Regions from separate parts of the Homo sapiens genome. Here regions 2 and 3 are each linked to region 1. The links come from fine-mapping of genetic effects on gene expression. A gene starts in region 1. Each other region holds a variant in brackets. All regions are shown on one strand. Distances are between the middles of the regions. Region 1 holds the start of TM7SF3 (transmembrane 7 superfamily member 3). Region 2 overlaps TM7SF3 (transmembrane 7 superfamily member 3). Region 3 overlaps FGFR1OP2 (FGFR1 oncogene partner 2).

Region 1 (11,308 bases):
CAGGCTGGTCTTGAACTCCTGACCTCAGGTGATCCACCCGCCTTGGCCTCCCAAAGTGCTAGAATTACAGGCGTCAGCCACTGTGCCCGGCCTATTATTATTTTTTTTACTTGCCACTATACTAGTGAACAAAATCTTATTTTAAACATCTCTTTATAAAAGCCTTTCCTGAATTCTGAAAGTTAAATGCTCCCAATCTTTAACACAATTGTTCCTTACACTTCTGTTATTGCACTTAGCATACTGTGCTGTAATTATTTGTACATCACGCTAATTCACCCACCAGTCCATGGGCTACTTGCAGGCAGAAAACATATTCTGTTTCCATATTTCCAGTACCTAGCACCTAACTTTTAGCCTGGCACATATTTATCAACCAAATGAATGAGTTTCCTAGCATAATAATTTCCATATAATAGCTACTAAACAAGCATTTACTGAATTTAACTTAATGAACAAAGAATGTAAATTACTACCCACAAAAGAGCATAAGAATTAAAAAATACAGGATGAAGGTGAGATTAGAGTGGGAAAGAATGAATGGGCAAATTTCACAGAGGTTCAATCCTGCCTTTTCCCTGGATCCCCACTCCCAGCTCCATTTAAGGTATTTTAGGTTTTATTTAAAAAGCTAGGGTAAGTTTTTTCCCTTCCTCCTTCTCTCCCTCCTGCCCTTCCTTCCTCTTCTAAATTTTAACAGACTTTTGTTTTATTAGATACAGGGTCTTGCTCTGTCACCCAGGCTGGAGTACAGTGGCATAATCATGGCTCGCTGCAAACTCAAACTCCTAGGCTCGAACAATTCTCCAGCCTCAGCCACCTGTGTATCTAGGACTACAGATGTGCCCCACCATGCCCAGCTAATTTTTTTTTCTGGTTGTGTGTGTGTGTGTGTGTATGTGTGTGTGTAAGAATGGGGATCTCACTATGTTGCCTGGGCTGATCTTGAACTCCTGGTCTCCAGAGATCCTCCTGCCTTGGTCTGCTAAAGTACTGGGATTACAGGTATGAGCCACTGCGCCTGGCCTAAACAGACTTTAAGCCTCTAATGATGCATATCTTGGATTTGGGAATCTTTCAGTTTCTGCATTTCCTTTCAATACATAGGAAAAATGAACTAATCTGCAAAGCTGCTAAGCTTGTTTGCTTCTCAGCTCTCCAATGGAACTCTGACATGAGCATGGAACCCCAGCCAATCATCCTCCCAAGCTGTCACAATACTGTACTTAGAAGCCAAGGTAATGAGGCCCTGTTCTGATTGCTGACACATTTGTCATCAACTGTCATGCATGCACAGGCAACTGCAGGCCTGGGGAACTGCGATGCAAAGGTATGGAGGAGAGAGAATAGGCTCAGTTCAGGAAATTGAAATTAATTCAATGTGGCCAGCATGTAGAGGTCTGATTTTAGTTGCAGCAAGAACCTAGGGAGGTGAGCAGGAGTTGCATCACAAAAAGCATTTATGTGTCATACTCAGGAAGGTGGACTTATATCTTGAATGCTTTTATAAGAAAACCTTTAAAATTATATGTATCTTTTACAAAATCATAATTTCTTATTTAAAAATGATACACTTCAATGTAGAACTTTTACACAGAAATGTGCAAAGGAAATCATTCTTAATTTAACCACCTAAAGATAACTATTTTAAACATTTTGGCATATATTTTTCAACCTTTTTTTCTATGTACATAACCAGGAATGCATACTACAAAGAAAACAAGGCAGGCACAGTGGTGTGAGCCTGTAGTAGTCCCAGTTAGTCTGGAGGCTGAGGTGGCAGGATTGCTTGAGTCTGGTGACAGACCAGGAGCACCGTCATCTCGGACAAACACCGCCACTTTAAGTTCCAGCTCCCTTTCTAGCCTCATGCATTTCAAGGAAATCACTTCTCTTCTAACTATAAGCAGCCAGAAAGAGCAGACAGTAAAACACAGATAAGACAGCTCAGGCACAAAGGGAGGTGGGGGGAAATTCTCTTGGGTAACTGCCAAACTTCACCCTCATACAATGGGCCCCAGTAAAACAGTGGGCCTTAGTAAGTACATTCCTTTCCCTTCAGGTGCACTAAGATAGGGAAGCTAAAAGCAGACTCGGGGGTATGCCTGCAGCTGCAAAAAGATGTATGGGAACAGACACACAACTCTCCCTCCCAGATAAGCACAACAGACACAGAAGCAGTCCAAGCCTCTGATAAACTCTCCCACCCTAAATCCTTAAAAACTCTTATTAGTCCGTAAGAGAGTGTGCCTCTAACCTAACTGGCCAGAAGCCCCTTTCAGGTTTGTTTTCTCTAAAATAAACTTGTCCTTGACTTCTAAGCCACCTTTCCTGTTTCTTTCTTCTTTAATTCTTACATCTGGGAGTTTAAGGCCAGCCTGGGTAACATAGTGAGATCTTGTCTCTTAAAAAAAAATTACAGGCCGGGTGTGGTGGCTCACGCCTGTAATCCCAGCACTTCAGGAGGCCGAGGTGGGCAGATCACAAGGTCAGGATTTCCAAACCAGCCTGGCCAACGTGGTGAAACCCCATCTCTACTAAAAAAAAATACAAAAATTAGCCGGGCATGGTGGTGTGTGCCTGTAATCCCAGCTACTTGGGAGGCGGAGGCAGGAGAATTGCTTGAACCCGGGAGGCAGAGGTTGCAGTGAGCCAAGATTGCACCACTGCACTCTAGCCTGGGGGACAGAACAAGACTCCATTTAAAAAAACAAACAAACAACAAAAGTATCCATTCCTCTGAGTCAATAAAAGATGTATGTTAAAAAAAAAAAAAAGCCACGTACTATATATACTTATTGCATCATAACTTGCCTTTTCATAAAGACTTCAATCAGAATATAAATGAAGGGCTGCACAGGATCCTCTTATAAAGCTCTATCATAGGTTATTTAACTCCTAATTGTTGGGCATTTAGGTTGTTTTAGATGTTTCTGCTACTCTAAATAATACTCTATGAATAGTTCTGTACACTATTTTTTTTTAAGAGATGGGGTCTCACTATGTTGCCCAGGCTGGAGGGCAGTGGCTATTCACAGGTGCAATCATACAGCACTGCCCTCTTGAACTCCTGGGCTCAAGTAATCCTCCTGCCTCAGCCCCCTGAGTATCTGGGACTACAGGCGCATACCACTTCCCCCAGCTTATACTAATTTTTATATGTGTATTTAATTATGTACTTAAATCTAAAAGTGGATTATACCAAATCTACAAAAATAAGATTTTTAAACATTTTTGATGCCGATTACTTTATTAAAGTGTATATTCCCAGTATCCCTACCTAAGAATGCCTCCTTCTTAGCTCTTTTATCCACACTGGATGTTTTATACTTTTAAAATGTTTACATCTTAGTTTGTTAATTTGATTTTTTTATTTGTTTACTAGTGAGATTGAACTTTTTTCATGTATTTACTGGTAATTTGTATTTCTTTTTTGGGGTGAAATTCCCCATTCATGTCCTTTGCTAATTTTTTTTTTTTGGTCAACTTGCCTTTTCATATTGTTTGTGTGTTTACTTTAATAAAATTTAAATATTTATGTAAAAAGCATTTACGTAGCCAAGTCTACCAATCTTTTCCTTTATGGTTGTTTCCTTTGCTGTTTTGCTTCTTAGAAAGCTCCTCCCATTTTGAGATCAATTTATTAAAAAAAAAAAAGAGCGCCCTCTTCTGCTAGCTCTTTTATGGTTTTATTACTTTGGGATTTTGTTTTCACAATTAGTGTGAGATAGAGTTCTGCTTCTCTCTGCCCATAGTGCAGCTAATCAGTTAAGAACACAATTTATTGAATAATCCATCCACTGATTCAGATGCTACCCTTATCATAATTGTCCCTTTCATCTTCCTTGGATTTCATCTACTGAGGGTTATAGGAATAGGGGCATGTGGGAGAGTGAATAAGCACTACAGAAATAGATAGTGCTACCAAAGGTGTGAAAATTTGGACCAGGCAGTGGGAAAGCAGAGAAAGAATTGTGCCTATGACAAAGATTATTTGCTTGGCCAAACTCTAGTACGGCTTCTGAATCTTCTGCTAGGTCCATCTGTGCACTTCTTTGTAAAAATCCAGTTTTAGCAAAGAACCCCCTTTCCTCCATATCTAATCAGTTTTCTCACCCTGCACCATCCCCCAGGTGATGTTATGTCTTCAGAAGTCCTGTTAGGTCAGTTTCACCAAATGCCCCTTACCTCTGATGCTTCCTCTTAGTAATTTTCCATCCACTGAACTCCATACTGCTGGTTGGCTATAAATTCCCTCTTGCCCACGCTGTATTCGGAGTTGAGCCCAGTCCCTCTTCCCCACTGCAAGACCCAGTTGCAGTGGTCCCTATGCCAATTGAGACAGTCCTCAATAGTCTTCGTTCGGTGCTTTAACAAGTATCATTGAATAATTTTGTCTTTAACACTTCTTCACATTATGGTCACAGCTATATATTGTTAGCTTAGTAGTGGACTAACTGAACATGTAATTTCCAAGCTATAAGTTGCTCATCAAAATATATAAGTGAAAAAAATTAAAACCAGGGAAGGAAAGCAAGACAATCCTCCCCAAATAACGTTAAGTCTATGCGTCTAATTCCACATCATCGATGAGCCATCTGTCACATGGACTACTGTCCCTCAAACAGCACTCAGGTATGAGACTTGAGACGAAGTTCAGACCAAGGCCGTGTCTTCGAGGATATTTCGCTTAGAGAAAACGAAACTACTTTTAAATGTAGTGCTTATGACTAGTGCGGTAACCACTACACAAACAGCATTCTCCTGGCATTTTTATGCTAACATAAGCCTCAGCAGCGAAGACAATTGCTACCGGGGGAAATAACCTTCAATTGTGTTTTTAGCAACTGATTCCTCTTTTTTGCTGTTGTAAAGGGCCGTTAAACACGGAAACAGGAGCCTGGCGACGTTAGTCCGCAACAGAAAGTTATTTTGTACTTTCACAGTGGGTTTGCCTACTTGGTGAGATAAAAGTGGGGCAAGACCGGGCCTCAAGCCAGGACTTCCTGGGGGCTCCCGGGAGCACCGCAGGCTGCGCGTTCCCCGCGCGCCGGCAGGAGGCGCGCGCTGCCTGGAAACGCCCCAGCGCCGCCCGCGCCCAGAGACCCGCCGCTGTGACGCAGCGAGAGCCCGGGAGGAGGCGCGGGAACGCGCGTTGGGGGTCAGGTGCCGGAAGAGGAAACCTCTCGCTGGGGCTAGGAGTTCGGCGGGGCGCGCGCCGGCGGCTGCGGAGCTGGCAGGTGCGAAGCGTCTGCACCTGGCGGGCGATGGCGCCCGATGCGGGCGCCCCGGGATAGCGTGGGCGAGGCTGCGGGGCCCCGGCGCGCACGCCCGCACCTCTCCCCAGCCCTGGCGTGGGCCCAGCCCGGCCCAGGCAGCAATGGGGTTCCTGCAGCTGCTGGTCGTAGCGGTGCTGGCATCCGAACACCGGGTGGCTGGTGCAGCCGAGGTCTTCGGGAATTCCAGCGAGGGTAAGGTCGGGGCGCCTGGCTTCTGCAACCCAAAGTTGCTTTTGCATTTCTTGCGAGGTCAAAATCCGCCAGGGGTCTGTCAGCCTAGCAGGGAGATGGTGCTGGGGGCGTTGGTACACGCTGGGTGGTGAGTCCAGAACCGGCACGAATGGTGTTTCCTGCAGCGGAAACACTCATGGCTAAGGAGGTCTTACTATTAACCTCCTCATTTAGCGGAGGAAATGGGAAGAGATAAATAATTCTCTTTTTTTAACACAGTATTATCTCCCTTAGGGAGCAGCCATGTTTGTGGCTTTAATTCAACTTACTAAAGCGCCTCTTTGCTGCCCAGTGGACTGTCTGAGCTTCTGGACAGCAAGACTTGGGGTGGAACTAGCGGCTTAATGACTGATGGCTCTCAAGCTGCATGGAATTTTTACACCCCCAAATCTAGAGGCTTTTCAAACTGGTTATGTTCTACAGAGTTTGAGAGGGAAAATGAACCCATAATGAGGCTTTATTTTTAAAGAGCCTTTACCATCTAATTTATTAATACCATCTGGAGACAGGAAAACATTCCATACTCACAATGAGAAATAAAGGACTTTCTGAATTACAGATACATAGACATACAGATAGAATGTGTATACCCTCAATTCTACAAGTTCAGCCACAAATGAAAAATAAACACAGAAACACAAAAGCTTGCCAGTCCAGGTATCAGAGTTGTTCTCCTTACTTGAGGGCAAGAAATTTCTAATCGATTTGACCTTAAAAAAGACAAATGGACAAAAACTGTGTTCTCTGTTGTCTCATATCCAACAGGAAATAGATCTCTATGAGATATTAATTCGTTTACAGAGATCACAAAATTCCCAATCATTGCAGCTACCAACAGGAAATAACTTGTCATCCATAAATGAACTGTAAAAAATAACAATTTAATAGAGAGTAAAACTAAAATGAGAAAAACAAGAATCAACGAAGTTCTATTGCCACTTCAAATTCACCTGTGGGAGCCAAGAAGCAACATGCCCGGGCTTGGCTCCCTATGAGTACACCATTTTTGATGATTTCAGGTGACTTTTTTTTTTTTTTTTTTTGACGGAGTCTCGCTCTGTCGCCTAGGCTGGAGTGCAGTGGCATGATCTTGGCTGACTGCAACCTCCGACACCCGGGTTCAAGCAATTCTCCTGCCTCAGCCTCCAGAGTAGCTGGGATTACAGGCGCCCGCCACCACACCCAGCTAGTTTTTGTATTTTTAGTACAGGCGGGGTTTCACCATGTTGTTCAGGCTGGTCTCGAACTCCTGACCTCGTGATCTGCCCGCCTTGGCCTCCCAGAGTGCTGGGATTACAGGCATGAGCCACCGCGCCCGGCCGATTTCAGGTAATTCTTGTTCATCTCAGTGAGAACTCAGAATGGGATGTTAGATTGTAAGTCTTGTGCTTGGTGAATGGGTTTGGGCAACAGCTCATGGTTTGTTAATATAAAATGTAAAAGGCACTAGTTGTGCCAGGCAGATCATCATGTGCTTTTCCATGAAACTAAGCACATTCTGTTTTGTTTTGAGGTTAATAGACTAGTTGCAGTTCTGAAACATAATATTTTCTGAATAATGTGATTGTGTTGCTATGCACTTATCTTTGAAAAGCCCTTGTGCAAACTGAATTCTAGGATCTTTGTATATAGGACTGAGGCCAAAGCTGAAAAGGGCAACTTTTTTTTTTGCAGAAAAACCTTGCTTATAATAGGGCACTAACATTCACTCTGTATAGTGTGTGCCAGGTGCTTTCCACGTGCAGTGTTATTTAATCCCCACCACCCTACAATGTAATGATCTTCCTCCCTTGTCAGAGGAACAAATGAACAGCTGCTAGGGTTACAGATAGGACTTGAACCCAGGTGAGTCTCCCTGCAAATTTCATAGTCCTTCCACTTCCGTAAAGCTGTCTTCCAATAAGAATATCTTACATGGCATGGTGCTTTGTACTTAATCCTTCTGTGAATCCTCATTCTTCAAAATAGCCTTATGATGGAGGTAGAAGAGATGCTATCTCTATTTTAACAGGTGAAGAATTTGAGATATTAGAGTTTTTAGTTGATCGAGGCCAGCCCCTGAGTCAGGAGAGCAGGCGTCCAGAACTTTTTCTTTCTACTTGGTGTTAGTATTTAATACCTAGAAATTTTTATACAAAAGTTAAAAAATATGAATAAATTGAGAAATTAATTTTTTTCAGACACTGCTTTTTGCCTCTTTGCTATGATTATAGCACTGATATTCCTCAATGTTATTCTTTTTGCCTTGCATTGGTATTGTCATTCTGTGCAGAAGAGGGACAATGTGGGGACTTAACTGCTGAGTGATAATAAAAGCTGATATTCTCCACATCTATCAGCTAAAAATCAGTATAGAAAGGTAGAAGGACATAGTTCAGGACTTGCATAATCCTCCTAGAAAATGGCTGGATTGATGTTTGATGATGATAATTCTGATAACCATACAAACTGAAGAAATTGAGCATCTGCTGTAATTTAGGAGGATTTACCCATCTTTGGCAGGATGAGCTAACTTGCATGACTTCTGTAGTGGCCTGAATGCTAAATAAATCTTGGAACGTGGCAGATGGAGTTCCTAGAATGTCTGAGGAGGGTGCTTTCTGTGACCAGTAGGCACATGAGATGGATCATACTTTTAAGCAGTTTTCCCTTCTCTTGGAGTCCCAGTTCACTGCTGCCTTTAACATCTTTCATTTGTTTAGATTCATATCCAGTAACTCCCGTGGAATTTCATAGTAATTGGACTTGAGCACAGCATCATTTGGGCCTTTCAGTCTTCTTGCTATTGATGATGCTTTACCAAGGTAGCAGGCTGTTCATGGTTAGTTGCAAGTGCTGTCTTTCTCTAAAAAGTGTGTGAAGCTAATATGTTCATTTTTGTGTTCCCTTTCAACCTTTAGGGCTATTGAACATTTGTAAGAAGATAACAATGAGAAATTGGGAGGGGCGGTTGACTGCTGACCAACTCAAGTAGCTGAACCATTTTTGTTTTTAATGTGAAGAGAATTATGAAGACTAGGCTATGATGGATTTCTCTTAGAATTTGGTTGTTGTGTTGAAACACAAACAGTAGAAGTAAATTTTAGTAAAATAGTAAAAAGGAAGAGTTGGAAATTTTTATGGTTGCCAGATTAGGATCTGATTCGGAAAGAAAAAGGAAAGTATTAGGATTGGGCAGCTCTTTTTAAAGTGGAATTATTGGAAAGAAAAAGTGATTCTGGGTAAGAATGGAAGATGGGTGTGAAAAATTGTTTCAAGTCCCTACTATAGGTCAGATGGCAAAAAAAGCCATTTCTTTTTAGAGGAAAGCTAATGTAAGTGCCCCAACTTGATGTTAGCCATTTGCTTTGTAATATCTTTTGATGTGCTGTCTTTTTTCCTCCTACTCTGCAAGTCATAAGATATAATTATGCCTCATAAAATGCTTCTAATAAATCCTTTTCCATATGCCTTAGAGGTGAAGTTAAATTCCTGTTAGCTTCTTCAGGATATTTTTTGAGTATGTGTCTTCTTTTGCTAAATCTGTTTTTATGAGCAGAAATTAAATGAGTTTCTACCAGACTGAGCTGTTTAAGTTGTCTTGACTTTCAGTATCTTTTGTTGTCACTCTTCGGAAGTCTCTTTCTCAACGTAATGCTTATGATGTGCCTGGAATTTCTGTGAATGCCCTGTACATGTTAGTTCCTTTCTTCCCACTAATTTTTTCGTAGGGCTGCTCTGAGTGCCTGATTGTCTTTCTTTCTTTCTTTTCTTTCAATAAGGAGATGAATGTGTGAAGCACAGGAAAGCTAATGGAAATTAATAAATGATGCTTTATTGTGTAGCCTTGGGCAGTTTAAAAGTTGTTTCCCATTTGTTTGATACTTTCAGCAGCCAACTGATGGCAGCACAGTTACCTCAATTTTACTTTGAGGGAACTGAAGCCCAGAGGAAGTACATTACTTGCCTGAGGTCACATAGTTCAGGCATCATTTAACAAACATTTACTGTATGCCAGTTAGGTGACTATACTGTGTTAGACGTTGGAACATCAAAAATGACAAAATCCTGCACAGCCAGGAATCAAACCACAACTGGTTTGGTTAAAGCAATCTTCTGAAAAAAATTGTACAATGGATGTTAGATTGCCAGGGTTACACTGCCAAAGTATTTTCACACAGATGTTAGGTTAGAGATAACTAAGACTGGGAAAAAAATACATATTTATCCTTTGCTTGTTTATCAAACACTATGTTAGGAGTTCTCAAACCCAGCTAAACATTAGAATTACATGGAGAACTTTTTATAAAAGATATATTGGTGAAGAGACAGCTAGAAATAGACATTTAAAAGAAAAAGCAGGGTCGGGTGCTGTGGTTCCGTCTGTAATCCCAGCACTTTGGAAGACTGAGTGGGGGAGGATCTCTTGGGGCCAAGAGTTCAAGACCAGTCTGATCAATATAGCAAGACCTCATCTCTACAAAACGTTAAGAAATAAAATTAAAGAAAAGAAAAAGTACATTTAAAATAGCCTCAAGAAACATTACGTATTCTGGGATGATAATCATGGGATATGTAAAGACCTCTACAGAGAAAATAACATAATACATCTCAACATTCTTTAGATAAATTGAGAAACTAAAGAAATAGAGGAATATCGGAAATTCATAGATTACAAAATTCTAAAGATAAAGATATTTTAAAGGTATCATTTCTTCCTAAATTAATGTATATATTCAGGGCCATCCCAATCAAAATCCCAGCAGGTTTTTTTGTGTGTGTGTGGATATTGACAGGCTGATTTCTAAAACTTATATGGAAATGTAAAGGATCAGAAATAGTCAAGATAAATTTGAGGAGGAAGAACAAATTTGGAGCAGGAGTTAAGAGAGTTGTAATATTTGTGTTAGGATTGGTGTCTATAGCTAGACAAATAAGCCAGTAGAATGCAATTGAGACTCTAGAAGCAAACACATATGTTCACTTGACTTATGTGAAAGGTGGAACTGCAAAGCAGTAGGGTGGGGAGATGGTGGTATTTTTAAATTATTTTATTTGTATAAACTTATGGAGCACAAGTGTAGGTACAGGATATATTGTGCAGTGAAGTCAGGGCTTTTAGTGTATCCATCACTGGAATTATGTACATTGTACTCATTAAGTAATTTCTCATCTTCAGGCCCCCTCCCACCTTCCTCAGTCTTCAATGTCTATCAGTCCACAGTGTAGGCCCATGTGTACACATTACATAGCTCCCATTTATAAGTGAGAGAACATGGGGTACTACAGGGTGGTATTTTTAGTGAAGGTTGCTGTCAAGTAGATGAACATATGAAACAATGAACTGTGACCTCTATCTTACACCATGTGTAAAAATCAGCATCAGCTTGATTTTTAGCTCTAAATGTGAAAGATAAAACAAACTTCTGGAAGTTAACATGGGAATGTATCTTCATGATCTTGGTATATGTTGACAAAGATTTCTTTAAAATGACACAAAAGGGACTAATCATAAAGGAAAAACCTGAAATTGACTGCTAAAATGAAAACTGTTAATCTAAAGGTAACAGAGTGAAAAGACAAGCAACAAGAGTGGGAGAATATATTCGCAACGTATCTGTCAGAATACTCATATCTATGATGTATTAAAAACTCCTAAAATTGAAGAAGGACAGTTCCATTTTTAATATGTGTAAAAGACTCGAACAGACTGTTTCACAAAGAGGATATCCAAATAGCAAATAAGCAAAGCAAAGGTTTCTTAACACCCATGAGTAATTAGGGAAGTGCGAATTAAAATCACAATGAGATACCACTAT
Region 2 (9,700 bases), 37 kb after region 1:
AAGTGATGTTTTCGATTATTAAAAAATCCTTATTTAATCAACAAGTTGTATAACTGAGCATCAAGGTAGCTCAAATGTAATCCTGATCTAATAAAGCTCTTTAAACTTATGTTAAATTGTTTGAAATAGCAACTCCTTTCCTGCTATTATGACACTTTTTTTATTAATTGGGAAGAGAGTATTGTAAAGAATATATAATATCTCAACATGTAGAATGATTCTGTAACAAAGAACTTAGTTGCTAAGCTGTGGTCTCAAAGTTATCACTAGCTTTTTTTTTTTCTTTTTAAAGAGATGGAGTCTCACTGTGTCTCCTAGGCTGGAGTGCAGTGTAGTGGCTGTTCACAGGTACAATTATAGTGCACTACAGCCTCACATTCCTAGCCTCAAGTGATCCTCCCACCTCAGCCTCCCAAGTAGCTGAGACTACAGGCACAAGCCACCATGCCTCACTCTGGGTTTTTTTGGTGTGTTGATATGTATCATTTTATATTTATTGAAATTGAGATACAGTACAAGTATTACCAAGAACAGCTGTGAAGAATTTAAGAAAATAGGTAGAGCTATGGCCTCCATGATCAGGATTAGGCTTATTTGTGGGAACAAAGTTATCTGTATACTTGCATTACCAGGTGTTTTAATGGATGAAGGTAATGATTGATCATTCTAAACAGGATAGGATGAATTAAAAGAAGATATAAAAGTTATATTTTGCTTTGGGACAGTTTGGGTTTCTTTTACCTTTTACATTTTATTTCTGCTTACAAAACTATTAAAATTTAATGTGTAATTTCGTATCACATACACGTGACAAAGTGCTATTCTTATTTTAAGCAGAAAACATAAATATATTAAAATGAGCTATGAAATGAACAAATAACAATTTAACAATGGAAACTGACCTATATACAAGAAAGTGTATCCTGTAGTTGGTACTTTAATATTGTATCTGTTTAATAATAATTACTCCCATGGCTGCTGAATTTCTTCTGCCTTTTAGATTTTTTTTTTCTTCTGAATGCTGTAACATGTAAATTCCAGGAGCTTAAGCATGTATTTGTAGATTAAATATTTAAATTGCACTGTAAAAAGGGTGCTTAACCATAGCTTTTGTTGTTTTGCTTTTTTCCTTTCCTGGTGGTTTGCCACTTAGAATTATTCTTCATAGGCTTTATCATCATGGGATTCTTCTTTTATATACTGATTACAAGACTGACACCTATCAAGTATGATGGTAAGTGAAAATTATATAGTTTAACTGGGTATTCAAGAAGGCAGGTGCTGTGTTTTACTTCACCTTTCCTTCTACAGTTTGGCCTATATTGTGTGTGACAGCCTATTACTTATGTAAAATAATGGTCCATCTAGTCTCTGAACACCTTTTCTGAACTACTCATTCAGACCTTCTGGGTTTTTAATCTGTATGGTGAATTCCTTGGTACTTAGGGAAAGGAGGGGCCATATTGATTATAGACCTGTGTTCTGGCTATGTGATATGTTGAAGATATGAGATGTACAACAAGCAAAATGTTGAGGTTTTCTTTACCTGAAAACAGATACCTCCCTACCCCATTATGTTTAACAGAATGCTTGTCAACTTTTCCTTCTCAATCCCAATTTATTGACAAGCCAAGCCTGTCACTGGCCCTGTGAGGTTTAGCTCCCTAGCTAATTTCCTTGTCTCAGCCCAGACCCCTCCCTAGAGAGGGTTGCTCTATGCTGGCTTCATGGCACCACTGAAGAGCCCTCAGTGCCTGACCTACAGAAAGCTGAAGCTGGCACTGGTAACGGTATTGTATGTCTAAGGCACGCGGTTGGAAGTACTGCCGGTTATCCAGCAGTTCATCCTCTCTCTTTGTACAGTGAATCTGATTCTGACAGCTGTCACTGGAAGCGTCGGTGGAATGTTCTTGGTAGCTGTGTGGTGGCGATTTGGAATCCTCTCGATCTGCATGCTCTGTGTTGGACTAGTGCTGGGGTTCCTCATCTCGTCAGTGACTTTCTTTACTCCACTGGGTAGGCGATATGTAACAGATGTTTTGTGTGTTCGAGTGACTGTTTGAATACTGCCTAATTGGATTTGCATCCTGGAGTGGTGTTGCATGTCAGTGCTTCTCCTGTGGAGTTCTGGAAATCTGCATTGATGGTGTGACACTTTCAGACAGCACCAGGACTAGTAAAAGTCCCTCCTTCCTCAAAGGCACAGTAGATGAAATATAGAATGTCTTTAGAGGTAGCTTTGTATCTATTTGTTGTGATAAGTGGTATGTGTTTATTAGAAATAATGGAGGTAAAGGAAATAAGGAGGTAAAGGCTCTGATGGCAGCTGAGTCGGGGAACCTGGTACTTTGTTTCTGGTCTTCTGTTGTACCCTCAACCTCCACTCCCATCCGCTGCCAAACCCCAGGTGTCCCTCAGGTACTTAATCACCCTGGGGCAGTAGCACAGGGCTGGTTCTGGGGTTTTTTTGGTGTTTTTAAAAAGTAATTCAATTGCTATCAGTTTTTAAAATCTGGTTAACTTATAAGTTAACTTTCTTTGCCATTGTTTAATAACTTACATTTCCTGATTATTGTCAAAAACAAACAAAAACAGCATCTGTACTCAAAAGTATTCTATTTGGTTGTTTCCTTTCTGTGACAATGTTCTTAAAATACTAGAATAAAGTTGATGGGACTGTTAGACATAAAAATAGCCATTTCATGAGGCTGTCAACTCTATAGAGAATGCAGGATATAATAGAGTACAAGTCATGTGTCCCTTGTCTCTCTGAAGACTTTTTTTTTCTAAGACTACTGGATAGTCTGATGAAAAGCAGTGTTGTGTAGGCTTGGCGAAATGACAGATTCACATGGGGATGTTTTTGAAATACAGATTCAAGGCTCTACCCTACATGTGCTAAATAAAATACTTCCTAATGGCTGAGCATGGTGGCTCATGCCTATAATCCCAGCACTTTGGGAGACCAAGTGGGAGGATTGCTTGAGCTCAAGTTTGAGACCAGCCTGGGCAACATAGTGATTCCCCATCTCTACTGAAAAAAAAAAAAAAAAAATTAGCCAGGTGTTGTAGTGCACACCTGTGGTCTCAGCTACTCTGGGAGGCTGAGGCTAGAGGATTGCTTGAACCCGGGAGGTTGAGGCTGCAGTGAGCTATGATGGTGCCATTGCACTCCAGCCTGGGCGACTGAACAAGACCCTGTCTCAAAAACAAAACAAAAAGACCACAAAAACCAACTACTACTTAATGGGCTTCCCCTCTTTTGTTAATGCTTAGAGGATGGAGGGATGATAGGTTATAATTTCTAGTAATTTAATGTACTTTTCATGAGGAGAATGAGCATAAATTATAAAGTCAGGAAAAAACCTTCTATATGCATTCTGGCTCTGTCACTAGTTCCCTTTCTAGCTTATAACCTTGGACGATGTATTGAAACTTTGTTCCATCATCTGTGAAACTATCTCATAGGATAGATGTGAGGAATGAGAAAACAGAAATAAAGAGGTCTCTTAATTTTCAACTTTATAAAGTAGTCTAGAGCAGTTGTCTCTAAACTTTTTGACATAACTATTCCTATTGGTAAAAATAATTTTAGCATATACCCTTTATATATGTTTGTTTATGAACTATCTCATAGCTCAAGGACCGTTAGAGTGATCATCTCCTCAATGCTAGTGGGTGCAAACCCATATTTTTATTTTTTAGAGACAGGATCTCTTTCTGTCACCCATGCTGGACTGCAGTGACACTATCATAGCTCACTGCAACCTCAAACTCTAAGGCTCAAGCCATCCTCTTACATCAGCCTCCCAAGTAGCTGGGACTACAGGTGTGTGCTGCCATGCCTGGTAAGCTTTTATTTTTAGTAGAGACAGAGTCTCACTGTTGCCTAGGGTGGTCTTAAACTGGGCTCAGGCAGTCCTCCCACCTCGGCCTCCCAAAGTGTTGGGATTACAGGCTTGAGCCACTGCACCTGGCCTACCTATATATGTATACACACACACACATACACACACACACACACACACACACATTATTTTTTTCCTGAGACGGAGTCTCACTCTGTCTCCCAGGCTAGAGTGCAGTCGCGCAGTCTCAGTTCACTGCAACCTCCACCTCCCGAGTTCAAGTGATTTTCCTGCCTCAGCCTCCTGAGTAGCTGGGATTATAGGCACACACTACCATGCTCAGCTCATTTTTATATTTTTAGTAGAGATGGGGTTTCTCCATATTGGCCAGGCTGGTCTCAAACTCCTGACCTCAAGTGATCTGTTCACCTCGGCCTCCCAAAGTGTTGGGATTACAGGCGTGAGCCACCATGCCCGGCCAAGAGGCCTACCCATATTTTTAAGCATTAGCATTTAAAAAATATTTGGCTGACCACTACAATCTGATTAGATTGCTAGTTTTCACCTTATGTGGGAAGCAATGAGCTTATTCTCTGAAAGGGTCCGTTCTTCACATGCATGCATCGTAACTATTTTCAATACTTAGATTTCTTGAAAGCCTTTTACAAGAAAGCCACATATGTATTTTGTGAAGGTTAATATAGTTAAACTAGAGAATAGAATCTATAAGTTCACCTCAATGGCATATTGCTGTTGGCTTCAGAGAATATGGAGTCTCAAGGTCCAGTCCTGTAGCCTAGGGACTCCCAGTCTTCCACTCTGACCTGGATATGTAGGTCTTGAGGTATGGGGCCATTTACAGATGGACTGAATGGTGGTGCCAGTGTCAGTATTAAACAGCAGTCAGCCTATTCTTGCTTTTTAAACTTAATTTA[T/C]AAAGAGGAGTTCTCATATATTTGTTCTGGGTCGGCCTAAGTTGTGCAGCATTTTAGAGTCCAGCAGCAGGAGAAGGGTTTGGGAAGAGCAGATAGTTGGTTGGTTCCTCTTTCCTGATACATGAGGAAATCACATGTCACAGTGTGCAGTGGCATGACAGGACATGCTTTGACGGTAAAAATCTGTTAAGTGGACTCACTGTTTACATTGGGTTCATGGCTTAACTTTGAATGCCTTTTACTTGTATTTTTTATTTTGCAGTATGAAATCATGAAGTCAGCAATGTAGAGCTAACAGGTGATTTAGAGCTTGGAGATATAATTCAATGTCATTTTGAGGGTTAGGAAACTGAGGCTCAAGTTCACAGAGCTAGTGAATGGAAGAGCTTGGACTATTCCAGTGTCTTCTAAATGATTTTGTTAATAAGTGCAGAGCGTTGACCTGCTTGGTTCCTCCCACCCACCTTCTAGAACACATCCTTCAAAGAAGATTGTATTGACAGTTAAATGAAGAAAATTAGAATTCATTTCTAGTTGCCAACATATTCCCTGGTTGTTACTTTAAGGCTTTGATGTATATCTGTGTTCAGATGTTCCAAGAAACCAACTCTAACTTGGTAAAGCTGTTGTTTACTCTTAGTTTCTTTTTGCTTTTTCAGGAAACCTAAAGATTTTTCATGATGATGGTGTATTCTGGGTCACTTTCTCTTGCATAGCTATCCTCATTCCAGTAGTTTTCATGGGCTGCCTAAGAATAGTAAGTGTTTCATCAAAAGTTAGATTTATTGATTATGTTATCCTGTGTGTTCAGCTGATCACTTATTTCATCATTTTGCATGTTTTATTCACTGGGGAGGGCTGTGTTACCTGTATCAGATGACTGATTCTAAATAGCCTTGTTACTGTGAAAACGAAGTTCTATTTATGATTACCACATGGTGTTTGTTTTTTTCTTTTTTTTCCACCAAATGGAGCATCACAGTCAATATGCTTTTAACAGTGGGAGCAGAGAAGGTAGTGCTTACTCTAGTACACCAACCTGATGGGTCATTAGTTTCAACTGGCTTCAGAAGAGTGATTCTTCCTCTAATTAGATTTTATTGTTGAAGTTCCTTCATATGGAAGATATTTTCCATAGTATTTGGATAAGCTGAACTGTGTTTTAAGAACTCATATGGATGTTGAAGGTTGTTTTCAGTTTATCTTTCCAGGGAACTTCTGTTCAGCTCTGAGTGGGTCTGGTCCTTTTTCATGCCTGAGGGAGCAGATGTGATTGCCTGTGATTGAAGCCAGTGGAGAGTTATAAACTATTTTTGTTCTAACATGGATGATGCCTAAACTCTTCCACTCTTCCACAGCTGAACATACTGACTTGTGGAGTCATTGGCTCCTATTCGGTGGTTTTAGCCATTGACAGTTACTGGTCCACAAGCCTTTCCTACATCACTTTGAACGTACTCAAGAGAGCGCTCAACAAGGATTTCCACAGAGCTTTCACAAATGTGCCTTTTCAAACTAATGGTAAGACTCTTAAATCCAAAAACCAGTGTGACAGCACAGTAGGAGTCTTGACCCACCTATGCTAACCAGAGCACTTGGAAACTAAATTTAAAGAAAGTCAACTGGGACAAAAGGAGGGAACACAGCATACAATGCTGTGAGAACCCTCTGTTATGATAACTCAGGATCATGGGAGTAAAGCATTTAAAATTTTAAGATGAAGATAAAAATCTACTAAATGAATTTCATTAAGAAATTTCCAAGATTATTTAGGTTTACCTGGTCATTCTCAGAGGGGAGAAAAATACTGACAGTAAAGATGTTTGAGACTTATGGGTGGGGATGGAATAAGGGATGAGAATGACAACCTGATTTAATGTTAAGTTATTCCCTTGTTTCCCTCCTTTAATGAAGCATGCAGTTTGCTAGTTGAAAGAGTTTTTAATTAGTAAGCATATAGTTTCCCTCACTTGTAAGATTCTATCCATTACAGATTTTCTATAAATTTTTTGAAGAAAAAAATGACTACCACATGAATTGTTCAGATTGTAAGATATGTTGACTTCAGAAATGTTGACATGTGGAGAGTGAAAAAGCATGTCCTAGAATTGAAGATATATTGCATAAGCACAATTGTGATTGTTGTGATTTTATTTTAGGGCAAATCTTTCCCTTTACTATCCAGAGCTTTCCCTTTGGATAAGAGGTTGATGGTAGAGACCTTGAAATCCTTGAAAACCTTAAAACTCTTGCAAGTTTTAAGTACCAGACAGTGTTTTGCCAAGCTAGAAGCTTTACTAGAAGCTGAGTACGATTGGTTGAATCTTTTCATGCATTCCTATACCTACACTGTGAGTGCAGTAGGGCCCCATGTAGAGTGGAATGGGAAAGAAATGAGCGTGGTGGAATCTGATGTTCCATGATGTACATATGTGAAGTGTAACTAGATCACTGCCTTCCTCCCCGAACCCCCTCTGAAAAAACACACAAACAACTGTGGGTACTTGTTACATAATGTTGGAAGGCCAAGGATCCAAACAACTGATTTTTTTACAACCTGTCTGGACTTTCAAATGCCTGTAATAGAAAATTCCTAGTTTCAAAAATAAGACTGTGGCTTCCCTACTGATTCCTTGGTTTGTAACTGAGGAACTACATATGTGTTTGGACTAACTCACCAGAAAGTCTATTAGAAAGGAATATACAGATTTAGTCCATGAAGGGTTGTATTATTATGTTAGATTTTAAAATACTAGAGTTCAAACTGTACTTTTTCTACTGTTTTTTAGACTTCATTATCCTGGCAGTATGGGGCATGCTGGCTGTAAGTGGAATTACGTTACAGATTCGAAGAGAGAGAGGACGACCGTTCTTCCCTCCCCACCCATACAAGTTATGGAAGCAAGAGAGAGAGCGCCGAGTGACAAACATTCTGGACCCTAGCTACCACATTCCTCCATTGAGAGAGAGGCTCTATGGCCGATTAACCCAGATTAAAGGGCTCTTCCAGAAGGAGCAGCCAGCTGGAGAGAGAACGCCTTTGCTTCTGTAGATGCCCAGGGGCTTGGTCAGTGTGCCTCAGCTTTGGAGTTCATGCCTGGAGTGGTTCAACAGTCTCTGGTGCAAGTCTAATAAGAGATCAGGCATATATATCTGTTCTTTGCATAATATTATGGTGCCCTTATTGATATATGGTAAGGGTGTACTAGGGGATTAGGATGATTGTAAGAGAATGAGAAAGATGACCAAAAGGTTGGTGGTAGGGAGGCTTTTTCTTATTTCCAAATACTTGAGAAATTACCTTTTGGTTTACAAATCTATGATCAACTTATTCCATTAAATAGATACATTAAAAAAATTAAAAACTGATTCTTCTGCAGAGCACTGGTGTTTCTTTTTATAACCCCTTGAAACAAGTCTCTCACCTGAGCCTGTCTAAACTTTCGGAGGGAGTTTATTATTGAGTCTTTATCTGTGACAGTATTTGGAGATTTAGGGATTTGATACTTAGGCCTTTGAATTTTAGAATACAAAAAGAGAAGCAAGCCAGACATGGTGGCTCACACCTGTAATCCCAATACTGGGAAGCCAAGGTGGGAGTATCGCTTGAGCCCAGGAGTTTGAGACCGACATGGGCAACATGACAAGACCCCATCTCTACAAAAAAATTAAAAAATTAGCCAGGCATGGTGGCACATGCCTACTCCCAGCTCCCAAGGAGACTGAGATGGGAGGATCCCTGGAGCCCTGAAGATTGAGGCTACAGTGAGCCTTGATTGTGTCACTGCACTCCAGCTTGGGTGACAGAGACCCTGTCTCGAGAAATTAAAAAAAAAAAAAACTTATTTTCTTACTAAAAGCAGTCTGATTACTTAGTTGCATGCCCTTCTTAGTATCATACATTATCCAAAAGTTACCCTTTGTTTTTTTTTCAGTATTTTTTAAAATTTTTAAGTTGTGATAAAATACACATGAAATTTACCTTCTTATTCATGTTTAAGTGTACAATTCAGTAGGTTCCCTTTGTTTTTGCCTTTTATTGCTTAAAATGGTAATTGAAATAGCTAAATTATTATTTGAAAATAGGCCAATTTATATAGATAATAGAATTTTATAAGGGTGATTTATATTCCAAATAATGGCCCCCTTTTTTTTTTCAAGGCCTTTTCAAATAGTGTCAACAGGTGATCTTTAATTTAACTGCATTAGATGACATATGGATTACTTTTGTTTTTAGGAAATAACCCCCACCTTAATCTATATTGCCGACCAGGTGCGGTGGCTCAAACCTGTAATCCCAGCATTTTGGGAGGTCGAGGCGGGTGGATCACCTGGGGTCAGGAGTTCGAGACCAGCCTGGCCAACATAGTGGTCTCTACTATAGTATAGTAGAATATATACTACTACACCCTGTCTCTACTAAAAATACAAAAATTAGCTGGGTATTGTGGCAGGTGCCTGTAATCCCAGCTACTCGGGAGGCTGAGGCAGGAGAATCGCTTGAACCCAGGAGGCAGAGGTTGCAGTGAGCCAAGATCACGCCACTGCACTCCACCCTGGGCAACAGAGCGAGACTCCGTCTCAAAAAAAAAAAAAGTCTGTATTGCCATTAATAAGAAAACCTTAGAAAAATTTGTACTTCATAGTTCTTTCTGCTCAATTAGCTGTTAGCATTAGTGTAAAATATAGTTTTTAATAATTTCTGTACAAAGCCTTTGTACAGAAAGGCTTCATCCTTAAAGTGATGAGAATGGAGTCAAAAAGGATTCAGGTGTTTAGAGGAGCTGCTTTTCATTAGGACCTTGGAGAGTCCCCTCAGTTTTGACACCCTTGTTTCACCACAAGAAAGCACCCGACACCCTGGGTTGCATACTTACTACTCAGGGGCTTTCCCCCCAGCTTTCAGAGCACTGAATT
Region 3 (11,308 bases), 60 kb after region 1:
GGTTGACACAAGAGGTACCTATCATTAGGTTTTCTAATATAATAAAGGCATATAAAGAGCTATTTGATAGGTATTTAATTCTAATAGAATTAATTACTAATAAGTTAAAAACACGTACAAGCACCAAAATGGAAGAAGTATTTTAAAGAATCTAAAATGTGTTTCAATAATAGATAAATATGAAAATATGTCCTTTCCTATTTCTGTTGTAACAAATGGGGAAAAGAAGGCTCATAATCACTGTTTCTTAAATAATATTGGTAATAATAATAGTCAGCTCACCATTATCTAATACAGGTAACAGTCTAGTTTCCACAATCTAGTTTATTATTTTTATTTCATATCAGCAACTAAAACTCAGTTTAAAATAAATATGTGAGAAAGGATTATTCTACTTGTCTTCATAGCAGTTGCCATAAAATATGCCATAAAATATGGGGACATACCAAAGGGAATAGACACAGGGATGACAAAGGGATGAACAGCAGGTAAAACACTAATTTCTAACTACTTCAGCTTTGTTTCTAAAAAATGATGTCAACTGGTATACAATACTGGGGCAAGGGAGCAAAATTTTACTATGTTGGTTCTTCTCCTGAACCCCATGTTTTTTCCATTATAATAAACAAGATCATTTATAGTCTGGATGAATTAGCCTTATTCAGAAAACAGTCTTAAGAAAAATCTACATTAAACTGCTTTCAGATTTTAAAAAAGGTTTCCATTATTTTTTGTTTTTGCAAGAGAAGTCAATACACAAATTTATTAGAAAAAATGTTTCTTAAAAAAATTTCTGTTTTTTAAGAGACAGGGTCTCACTCGGTTGTCTAGATGGGAGTGCAATGGCATGATCGTAGCTCAATGTAACCTCAAACTCCTGAGCTGAAGTGGTCTATCCACCTCAGCCTCCTGAGAAGCTAGGACTGCAGGCATGTGCTACCACACCCGGCTAATTTTTTTACTTTTTGAAGAGATGGAGTCATGCTATGTTGCCCAGGCTGGTCTTGAACTTCTGGCCTCAAGTGATCCTCCTGCCTTGGCCTCCCAAAGTGCTGGGATTATAGGCGTAAGCCACCATGCCCAGCCCTTTAAGAAATATTTCTTAAAAGTATATAGCCCTACAAAAATAATGTTGAAGAGACCAGACTTACCTTTATATCCAAAATAAAATTTATTTTTCAACGTACAAATTAAAGTTTCTAAGAAACAGTGAGAGTTTATAAATCAAACAGAAAATGATATATAACAAGAAATGGAAAAATAAGAAAAAGGAGAAAATGTCAATTAAAAAGATGAAACATTCAACATCATGTTAAAATGCCATTACTAGATACCTGTGATTTTTTTCAAAAAAAATCTGAACACAGAATAATCAATCGTCTCTCTTTTCCATTTCAGGTCACATTTATAGAATGGATTACCTTGGAGTGCTGCTCTTTTAACTTCATTATTATACCCGGATCATCTTTTTTGCTAGCCATTAGCAATCTAAACATTTGTTCTCGGTACTTGCTCATTATAAGTTCCAAGGCCGACTGATGTTCTTCCAGAGATGTACGTAATTCTATCAAGAATAATATTGTATTTTATTCCAACTTGAGTTAAAAGTACACAAAATATTCTCTTCCACTAAGCAACTTATGAACGGGACATTTTAAAAAGAAAACACAATGCACAAAAATCTAGCCATATAACAATAAGAGACACCAAATGAAGTCCCGTATTAGTTTTTTGAATATTTTAAGCTTGTTTCTTGAGAATCATTTCAACAAAGATGTACTAAACAGCAATTAATATCGGCCAAGGCTCCCTCTATATTAAGGGCCACAGACCTCAAGAGTCTAGTAGAGAAAACAAGCATGTGGTAGGTGGCAGAGTGGAGTGTTAAGTCAAATAGATTTAAGAGATGTCTATGGGAAGAAACTGGTGGAAGCTTTGTAGAAGTACAGTGTGAGTTCCCTCAGTTGAAAAGTGAAGGAATGGACCTTCTAAGCAGGTAGGCATGAAAACAGATGACGTGTTTAGGAAGTGATTGGTGTTGGCAAGAGCAAAGAGTTCACAGTGAAGAAAGCTGTGGGAAGAAGATTTAAAAAAAAGGCTGGGAAATGATTTTTAGGGACCCTGTAAAAGGTAATAAGTATATAATGAAAGTTCTTAGGCAAAAGAATTACATGATCAGACTGATTTTTGAAATATCAATCTGATGGTTATGTTGAAGACAGATTGGAAGGGGGAAGAGAGACTGGAATCAGGGAGATCAGTTTGGACATTTCAGGCAAGAGACTGAGCATCTAATCTGGGGGCCAATGCAGTGGGACTGCAGAGAATGAAGCTGGGTTATTTCATAGCTAACAACAGCAGTGCTAACTGGATATTAAGGGTGAGAATCTAAGAGGATGTCAACCAGGCAGATGTTCATATGTGGGACAGGATAAAGAGCAATAAATACGATTTAGGAATATAGACTAGAAATGGGATTAATGTCAAAAAGTAACGTATCTTACCTTTGTTTTCTTGTTGCAACTCTCTGATTTGTCTGTTTTCTTGCTGGATTCCCATAACTAACGTGGACCGTGGCCGATGTCTCGCGACTTCATTAAGTTCTTGAATTTCTTCCTGATACTAATGGGGGAGAAAAACATGTGGGATGAAAATACCTGCAAATATATATATATATATATATATGATATATAAATATAAATATATCTGAAATATACATATAAAAAATCTGATAAGAGCTTAGTATCCAGAATATATAAAGAACACTTACAACTCAACAATAAAATGAAAATAACCCCATTTTTAAAAGTGGCAAAGGATTTGAATAAACATTTATCTAAAGAAGATATACAAATGGCCAATAAGCACATGAAAAGATACTTAATTAACCTAACTAGTCATTAGGAGAATGCAATTCAATATATCCCACGAGGATGACTGTAATGAAAAAGACAATAACAATTGTTGGAGAGGATGTGAAGAAACTGCAACCTTCCATACATTGTTGATGGAATGTAAAATGATGTAGTTCAGGGGTGTCCAATCTTTTGGCTTCCCTGGGCACATCGGAAGAAGAATTATCACGCTGCACATAAAATACACTAATGCTAACGATAGCTGATGAGCTTTTTTTTAAAAAAAAAAAATCTCATAATGTTTTAAGAAAGTTTGTGAATTTGTGCTGGGCCGCAATCAAAGCCATCCTGGGCCATATGCAGCCAGCAAGTCACAGGTCGGACAAGCTTGGCATAGCTGCTTTGGGAAACAATGTGGCAGATCCTCAAAAAATTTTAACAGAGTTATTATATGACCCATCCATTCTACTTCTACATATATACCCAAGAAAACTGAAAACATATGTCCACACAGAAACTTGTACACAAATATTCATAGCAGCATATTCTTACCAGCCAAAAAAGTAAAATAATCCAAATGCCTATCAGCTGATGAATGGATAAGCACAATGTGCTGTATCCTTACAATGCAATATTATTTGGCAATAAACAGGAATGAAGTACTGATACATGCTATAACATAGATGAACCTTAAAAACATTATGTTAAGAAGCCAATCACAAAAAGCCGCATATTTTATCATTCCATTTATATGAAATGTCCAGAATAGGCAAATTCAAAGAGATAGAAATATTAGTGGTTGCCAGAGACTGAGGAAAGGGGAAACTAGAGAGAGACCACTGATGGATGTAAGGTTTTGTGGTGATGAAAATGTTCTGGAATCAGGTAGTGGTTATACTGCATAACCTGCAAATGTGTACTAAAATCCAATGAACTGTACCCTTCAAAAAAGTAAATTTTATGGTATGTGAATATCTTAATAGAACATGTACAAAAGAAATGCAAAAAGATTTTCCATTAAGAAAATGAGAATCTTATTTTAAAATTGCACTTATTTATTTTCAAGGCATTCTCATGAGACACTTAGTAACATATTCATTATAACACTCCTGGTTCTTAACTTCAGATGTCAAACTCCTTTTTTAACAACTCAATACCAGATATATGTTCACTGAAGTGCCTGAGTCTAGCTGGACAGTTGGTTAGGGATGCAGGTAAATCTGTTTAGGGCAACACAGTTGTAAAACCAAATAACTAAACTTGCTCCACTATTTCCAGTAGCTTTGTTAAAAATACTATCCCAGAATTGCTTCCTTTTACAAAATAGATGAGGAGATTTGGCTGTGAATATACATTTTCCCCCTCTGATTTCCATCATAATGTCAGAGATTTTATAATTTTCTTAAATGACTTGAAAATTTTTATCAGAAGAAGGTTAAAATAGTGTCTAAACTCCGTGGCCCATGGGAATATTCTGTTATACAATAGTAAAAATAGCAAGAAGAAAGCCCTTATGTATTCTTTAATTGGTAGCACTGAATGAAAAATAAGGTAGCAAGTATGGGTACAATAACTGCACAGAGTATAAATCACATATTACCTTGCATCATTTTCAAAAGCTATTTTGTTGTTAAACAGCATCACCTAAGTACTTTTATAAAGAAAAATATGAACATTTCTACATTATACAAGACAGAACAAAATGTGTACCAACATTAGTAAAAGGTATTATCTGGTCTTTGTCAAATGTTTCTAGACCTAACAAATTCATTTATTTTCTAAACTCAAATGTGCAACTCTGTCAGCAAAATAAGTGATCAAATCTAGGGTTTAGAAATATATGTCTAGGTATATCACCTGAACACGACAAAATTAAAGTAAACCTGAAACACACAAGTCAAGCTACTTTAAAATTTTAGAGAATGTTGAAAAAAATTAGATACTAATTAGCCAGCAATACATAAATGTCAATGACTGCTTTTGATAAATGGAATGAACAAGAAAGAAAAATCAAACCTGTTTCATGGCTTCTACTCGCTTGTTGAGAGCTGTGGTTTGCTCAATCAGAGATTCTGCTGCATCGTCATGATCTCTTAATCTTTCAACAAGAGCTTTAGCGTCGGCAAGTGCCTTCTCAATTGTGCAACTCATTTCTAAAGATATATCTATAATTAAAATTAAAATCAAGACTCAAAATAAAGTCAACATATCTCTTTATTTTAGCTTCATGTCAACACAGATATGCTTCTTAAGCCACATTTGTTACAGTATTGTTCACTGTCCAGGGAGGAAAAAACACCTAAGAACACTGTGGTTTTGCTTCTGTTAGGATACTACAAACTTGAAAGTAAATTTATACTATTACAAAAAAATTAGAACACAGTTAAAAGATTTGCAGACAGAACTAGAACGCATTTAAAACACTCTAAATTTACAGTGGGGAAAAAAGTACATGTCCAAGGAATATAATGTTATATAGAAATTTGCCCTTTATGAGGGCATTCCCTATCTTGTCACTTTTGAGGAAGATCATTTGGTTTACTGGTCAGTATTCTGGGGTCAATGACTGTCTGAAAACTTTGACTGTAAGAATGCTTCCTAACCTCTGCTTGGTCAGGTGACTTGACACACTGTTCACAAACACTGCTGACCAGCCGAAGTGGCCTCAATGTGTCATGCTACATTAAAGTCTCAACCTCTTCTTGGAAGAACTTCTGCTTCTTACATAAAGTTGCATTATAATTCTAACTCTTGCATCTTCCTTAAAGTGCAAAAAAAAGTTTTGACTTAGGACAAAACTGGTAATTACAGGAAACTTCTGATATGCTAAAATCAGTAAGCAATATGTTTAAGAGTAGCTGAAAGAAATATGAGACAAAACATGAAACAGTCAATTGTCAGCTTCTTCAACTGGTATGTAGAAACCTCAAACAAAATTTTAATAATTTTAAAGTCTCTTTCCAAAACTTTAAGTTTCTCCTGAAACTTACACTTACCCTCCTTGAAATCTTTTATCTTCCTTTTTTTTTTTTTTTTTTTTTGGAGACACAGTCTCGCTCTGTCGCCCAGGCTGGCTGGAGTGCAGCGGCGTGATCTCGGCTCACTGCAAGCTCCACCTCCCAGGTTCACGCCATTTTCCTGCCTCAGCCTCCCGAGTAGCTGGGACTACAGGCACCTGCCACCACGCCTGGCTCATTTTTTTGTATTTTTAGTAGAGTCGGGGGTTTCACTGTGTTAGCCAGGATGGTCTCGATCTCCTGACCTCATGATCCGCCCGCCTTGGCCTCCCAAAGCGCTGGGATTACACGTGTGAGCCACCGTGCCCAGCTGAAATCTTTTATCTTTCTACTAAGTTTTACCTAACGTTCAATATAAGTCATCCTTTCTTCAGGGTTTCCTCAAAAAATAAAATCACACTAAATTACCAGGCCAGAAGCCACGTCTACAGAAGTTAAATTAAAATTTGGTGTAGATCCAAGTGAAGGGTTATAAACAAAGACTTTCATCAACTTTATTAAAACAGCAATTTGCCACAGAATTCAGGACTTTGTTATATACCACTGCCCTGGACTACAGATCTGTACCAACTAGTCCAATTAATGATTATCCCCTCCAATACAAAAAAAAAAAAAAAGCAACAAGTAGCAAAGAGAAAATTTAAATAACTCAACAGTATAAAATATTTCATAAAACACATCAGGCAATTTCAGAAGACTTTCTCCTGTTATTTAAATCGCCAATTTAGAAAATGTCCAATATATGATCAGACATTTCCAGAGAGCCTTAAGAAGTAAACAAGCTGGAAATTAATATAACTTCTGGCTCTCTAGAG[A/G]AAACCACCACAAGATTTGTCTTGTAAGATTCAGGAGGTTTAGATAAGGATGCTTGAAAATATGAGGAGTAAAAGGGCCATTAAAGGAACCAATATTGTCTGATACTGGCTAATACCCAAAAGGACAACTACCCAAAATCTATCCGAAGATGCCGTTCTGAGAGAGGCATTAGTGCCCAACAATACCCTGTACTTCCTCTAAATTTCCAAAGGAAATTATCTAAAACTGTAGACAGACAACTTTCTTATTTGTTAAGAAAGTTAACATAAATAGGTTAAATGGACATCACTATAACTCCCATTAATCCCATTACTATAGAACATCGGATCCTTCTGAGTAAACTTTTAAAGCTGTCTGTAAAGCAAAATTAAAAAAAAAAAAAAAAAAAAGGACGGGCACTGACTTGTACTAAGAAAAATGAAATAACCAAAAAAATTGGTTTTATAGTAAAAATAATAGTTTATAACAGATGGTGAAAGTAATAAAAGACAAATTTGAAACTCTACAACAAATTGTAAAAGATTTGAGAGAAAATAAAGTTTACCTTGGTTTAATAGAACTCAAGTAATAGAACTCTCTAACAGTCCTAATCTGTAAATGATATTGTTGGGACTACTATAAGAAGAACCCTTCTTTACACACTAAAACATAACATCTACAAATGCAATAGACAGGATCTGTTTCCAAATAAAACGCAATAAGGTCCTATATATGATCAGATAGCTAAATAGCCCTCAGTCTAGATAGTCTTCCTACATAATCATAAATCTTTTTGAGTACAAAAATAGTACCCTGTGTCCTGGGAGTATTAACAACACGACATCAAAACCCCACTGTCTATTATATTGTATACCTTGGGCTGGGCGCAGTGGCTCACACCTGTAATCCCAGCACTTTGGGAGGTCGAGGAGGGCAGATCACTTGAATTCAGGAGTTCAAGACCAGCCTGCCCAACATGGTGAAACACCGTCTCTACTAAAAATACAAAAATTAGCTGGGCGTGGTGGCACACACCTGTGATACCAGCTACTCAGGAAGCTGAGGCAAGAGAATTGCTTGAACTTGGGAGGCAGAGGTTGTAGTGAGCCAAAATTGCACCACTGCACTACAGCCTGGGCAACAGGCTGTCTCAATAACTAACTAAATAAATAAATACAAAAATTAGCCGGGCCTGGTCGGGGGGTGCCTGTAATCCCAGCTATTTGGGAGGCTGAGGCAGGAGAATCACTTAAACCCAGTAGGCAGAGGTTGCAGTGAGCCATAGCACCACTGCACTCCAGCCTGGGCCTCAGAGTGAGGCTGCATCTCAAAAAAAGAAAAAAAAAAAATCGTATACCTTAATTCAGCAGCTAAGGTTTAGCTTCCCTGCCTCCGAGCAATTATAAACCTCAACTGAATTAATCAAAGCATCTTCAGAGGTTATTCTAGGTCTTTAAACCTCATGTTACCATGCATAGTAAATCCCTATTGCTAAAGGAAACCATCCAAAATTTCTATCATTTGAGTAATCATGAAATATTGCTACTCTCTCTTTTTCATATTACCATTCACTGTGTAACAGTATTAATCCAGCAACCTTTACCTACTGCAAGGAAAATCTCATGATTGTGATTCCATAACTCAAGAAGTATTCAAGTCCAAAACAAAACTTTTGAATTTTCTAGTACCAAATCCTGACTTTACTGTTTGTTAATGGGTTTTATCTTAAAAACAAAAATCAGCAGTATCAGGCTTGATATGCAACAGGTACATCAGTCACTGTGATAAAATTCAATTTCTTACCAGAAGCCAGACTGATCAAATGACTTAACTGTGCTCCACTAAGATGGAGCAACTTACTGAAAGTAAATATATACATGAATAGGTGATATGCTTTTAGAATAATCCACTTCTCTGAAATGCTGCAAAGAAAAGAGGTTTCTCAGATATCCTTTTAAAAACAATGAATACAGGGCAGGTGCGGTGGCTCACGCCTGTAATCCCAGCACTTTGGGAGGCCGAGGCGGGTGGATCACGAGGTCAGGAGATCGAGACCATCCTGGCTAACACAGTGAAACTCCGTCTCTACTAAAAATACAAAAAAAAAATTAGCCGGGCGTAGTGGCATGCGCCTGTAGTCTCAGCTACGCAGGAGGCTGAGGCAGGAGAATAGCGTGAACCCGGGAGGCGGAGCTTGCAGTGAGCCGAGATTGTGCCACTGCACCTCCAGCCTGGGTGACAGAACGGGACTCTGTCTCAAAAAAAAAAAAAAAAAAAAAAAAAACAACGAATACATTAACTACTTGATGGCTTGATGGTAGCTGCCTAATATAACTGCTATCATAAAGGTAGAAACAATATTGTAGATACCATAGAAATACCTTAAAGTTCGTTACTATAAGCGGGATGCTTTGACTAAATGTCCTTATGCAAAAGCCTCATATGAAACTGTAAAATAAACCCATGAAGAAGTTAAAAGACTCCATGATAGATACACAAAATTTGGCCTGTCAAATTTCAAAAGAACCATTGTGACCATCAAGTTGTAAGATCCATGAAGATAAAAACTGACATAATCAGAATGGCTACTTGATAGTACCACATAACACCTCAAACAGGGCCAGGCACGGTGGCTCACTCCTGTAATCCCAGTACTTTGGGAGGCTGAGGCAGGTGGATCACCTGAGGTCAGGAGTTCGAGACCAGCCTGACCAATAATGATGAAACCTCATCTCTACTAAAAATACAAAAATTAGCTGGGTGTGGTGGCATGCGCCTGTAATCCCAGCTACTCGGGAAGCTGAGACAGGAGAATCGCTTGAACCCGGGAGGCAGAGGTTGCAGCGAGCCAAGATCGCATCATTGCACTCCAGCCTGGGCAACAAGAGCAAAACTCTGTCTCAAACAAAAAAAACCTCAAACAGATACTACTCCATGAAACATTTCATTTAAGTAGAAAAAAATGGCCACAATATTAAACACGAATGGGAAAACTTACCTTGGATAGCATAGGATACTGGTTAATTCATGCTTCATTTGTAAATAAATTAATCTGGAAAAACTGTAGGCCAGGTGTGGTGGTGCACACCTGTAATCCCAGCACTTTGGGAGGCTGAGGTGGGTGGATCACCTGAGGTCAGGAGTTCGCGACCAGCCTAACATGATGAAACCCCATCTCTACTAAATACAAAAAAATTAGCAGGGCGTGGTGGTGCAAGCCTGTAATCTGAGCTACTTGGGAGGCCAAGACAGGAGAATCGCTTGTACCTGGGAGGTGGAGGTTGCAGTGAGCTGAGATCGCGCCATTGCACTCTAGCCTGGGCAACAAAAGCGAAACTCCATCTCAAAATGAAAAAGAAAAACTGTAATGGTGAATCAACGACTAAAACCATTCCTGAACAACTTTCTGAACATCTCTAAGAAGATTTTATGGAGTTGCCTCTCTCCATGGTTTAGAAATATTTATTATTATTTTTTTAAGTTTAGTTATTTTTAGAGGCGAGGTCTTGCCATCACCCAGGCTGGAACTCCTGGACTCCAAAGACCCTCCACTTCAGTCTCCTGAGTAGCTGAGACTATATAGGTGCATGCCACCATGCCAGGCAATATTCTTAAATATTCTAGTATGTTTACGTTATGAATACCTTAGAAGAGTCCCCTACCGAAAAGACACAATATTCACAATGACTAAAATACTGTATTTTGTGTATTCTCCCAAGCGCATTCTAACTTGTCATCCAATAATATAAAAACATATTTAACTTCAATAGTTGAAACTTATACATTTCGATGATGTAACACTTTGCTTCCTTCTAAGAAACCTTGTCTTCATCATTCCCAGTCCTCAGGAAACCCCAGGCAGGAGTTTCCAACAAGATCTAACTCCAGACACGTTGTAGTCACATTTCCAAAAACTAAAGACAAAGAGAAAATCTTGAAAGCAGCCAGAGAAAAATGACATATTACTCATAGAGAACAATTTGAATGACTGTAGGCTTCCCAACAGAAATGAAGGCCAGTAAAAAGTAGAACAACACTTTCAAAATGCTGAAAGAACAGACCTATCAACCCAAAATTCTATATCCAGCAAAAATATGTTTCATATATGAAGGTGAAATAAAAGTCATTCTCAGCTGAAGAGAAAGAAGAACTTATTTCCAGTAGACTTATTATAAAGAATACTCTTCAGTTAGAAGCAAAGTGTTATCAGAAGGAAACTTAGAACATCAGGAACAAAGGAAGACCAACTGAAATTGTAAATATCTGGGTAATTATTTTCCTCTTAGTTCTTTTAAATGTCTAATGTTTAAAAACAAGAATTATAACATTTATCTAATGAGATTTTTAATTTATGCAGGCAAATATATAACTACAAGAAAAAGGGAGGAGGCTAAAAAGGCCTATACATTGATCAGATTTCTACATTTCACTTGAAGTTGTAAAAATATCAATTTTAAGTAGACTTAAAAATTTACATATATTGTAATTCCTAATAAATCCCTAAAATAACTGCACAGAGATAATAGTCAAAACTACAATAGATTAATTGAAATGAATTAAAAAGTGTTCAATAACCCAAAAGACAGAGAAAAGGCAAAACAAAGGAATATCAAAGGAACAAAAAGAAAACAAATGATAAGA

What was found. PIP is the estimated chance that this variant, and not a neighbour inherited with it, causes the effect.
Region 2: its variant is the best candidate, but not a certain one, in a credible set for the expression of TM7SF3 in T cells (TOPMed, PIP 0.53).
Region 3: its variant is the best candidate, but not a certain one, in a credible set for the expression of TM7SF3 in whole blood (INTERVAL, PIP 0.89).

Annotation. Positions count from the first base shown.
Region 1 is chr12:27,008,241-27,019,548 of GRCh38, reverse strand. It overlaps TM7SF3 (transmembrane 7 superfamily member 3), which reads left to right and starts at 5,165. Exons shown (of 12, transcript NM_016551.3): 1 at 5,165-5,471. The coding sequence starts at 5,381. RefSeq lists a silencer at 4,973-5,472.
Region 2 is chr12:26,972,100-26,981,799 of GRCh38, reverse strand. It overlaps TM7SF3 (transmembrane 7 superfamily member 3), which reads left to right. Exons shown (of 12, transcript NM_016551.3): 8 at 1,154-1,234; 9 at 1,864-2,016; 10 at 5,443-5,540; 11 at 6,142-6,304; 12 at 7,573-9,700. The coding sequence ends at 7,835. Among named protein-coding and RNA genes, the nearest start is that of TM7SF3, 37 kb to the left of the region's middle. The variant T/C (reference allele first, on the strand shown) is at 4,784.
Region 3 is chr12:26,947,857-26,959,164 of GRCh38, reverse strand. FGFR1OP2 (FGFR1 oncogene partner 2) reads right to left here. Exons shown (of 7, transcript NM_015633.3): 2 at 4,872-5,020; 3 at 2,505-2,622; 4 at 1,422-1,564. The coding sequence starts at 5,006. Among named protein-coding and RNA genes, the nearest start is that of FGFR1OP2, 15 kb to the right of the region's middle. The variant A/G (reference allele first, on the strand shown) is at 6,688.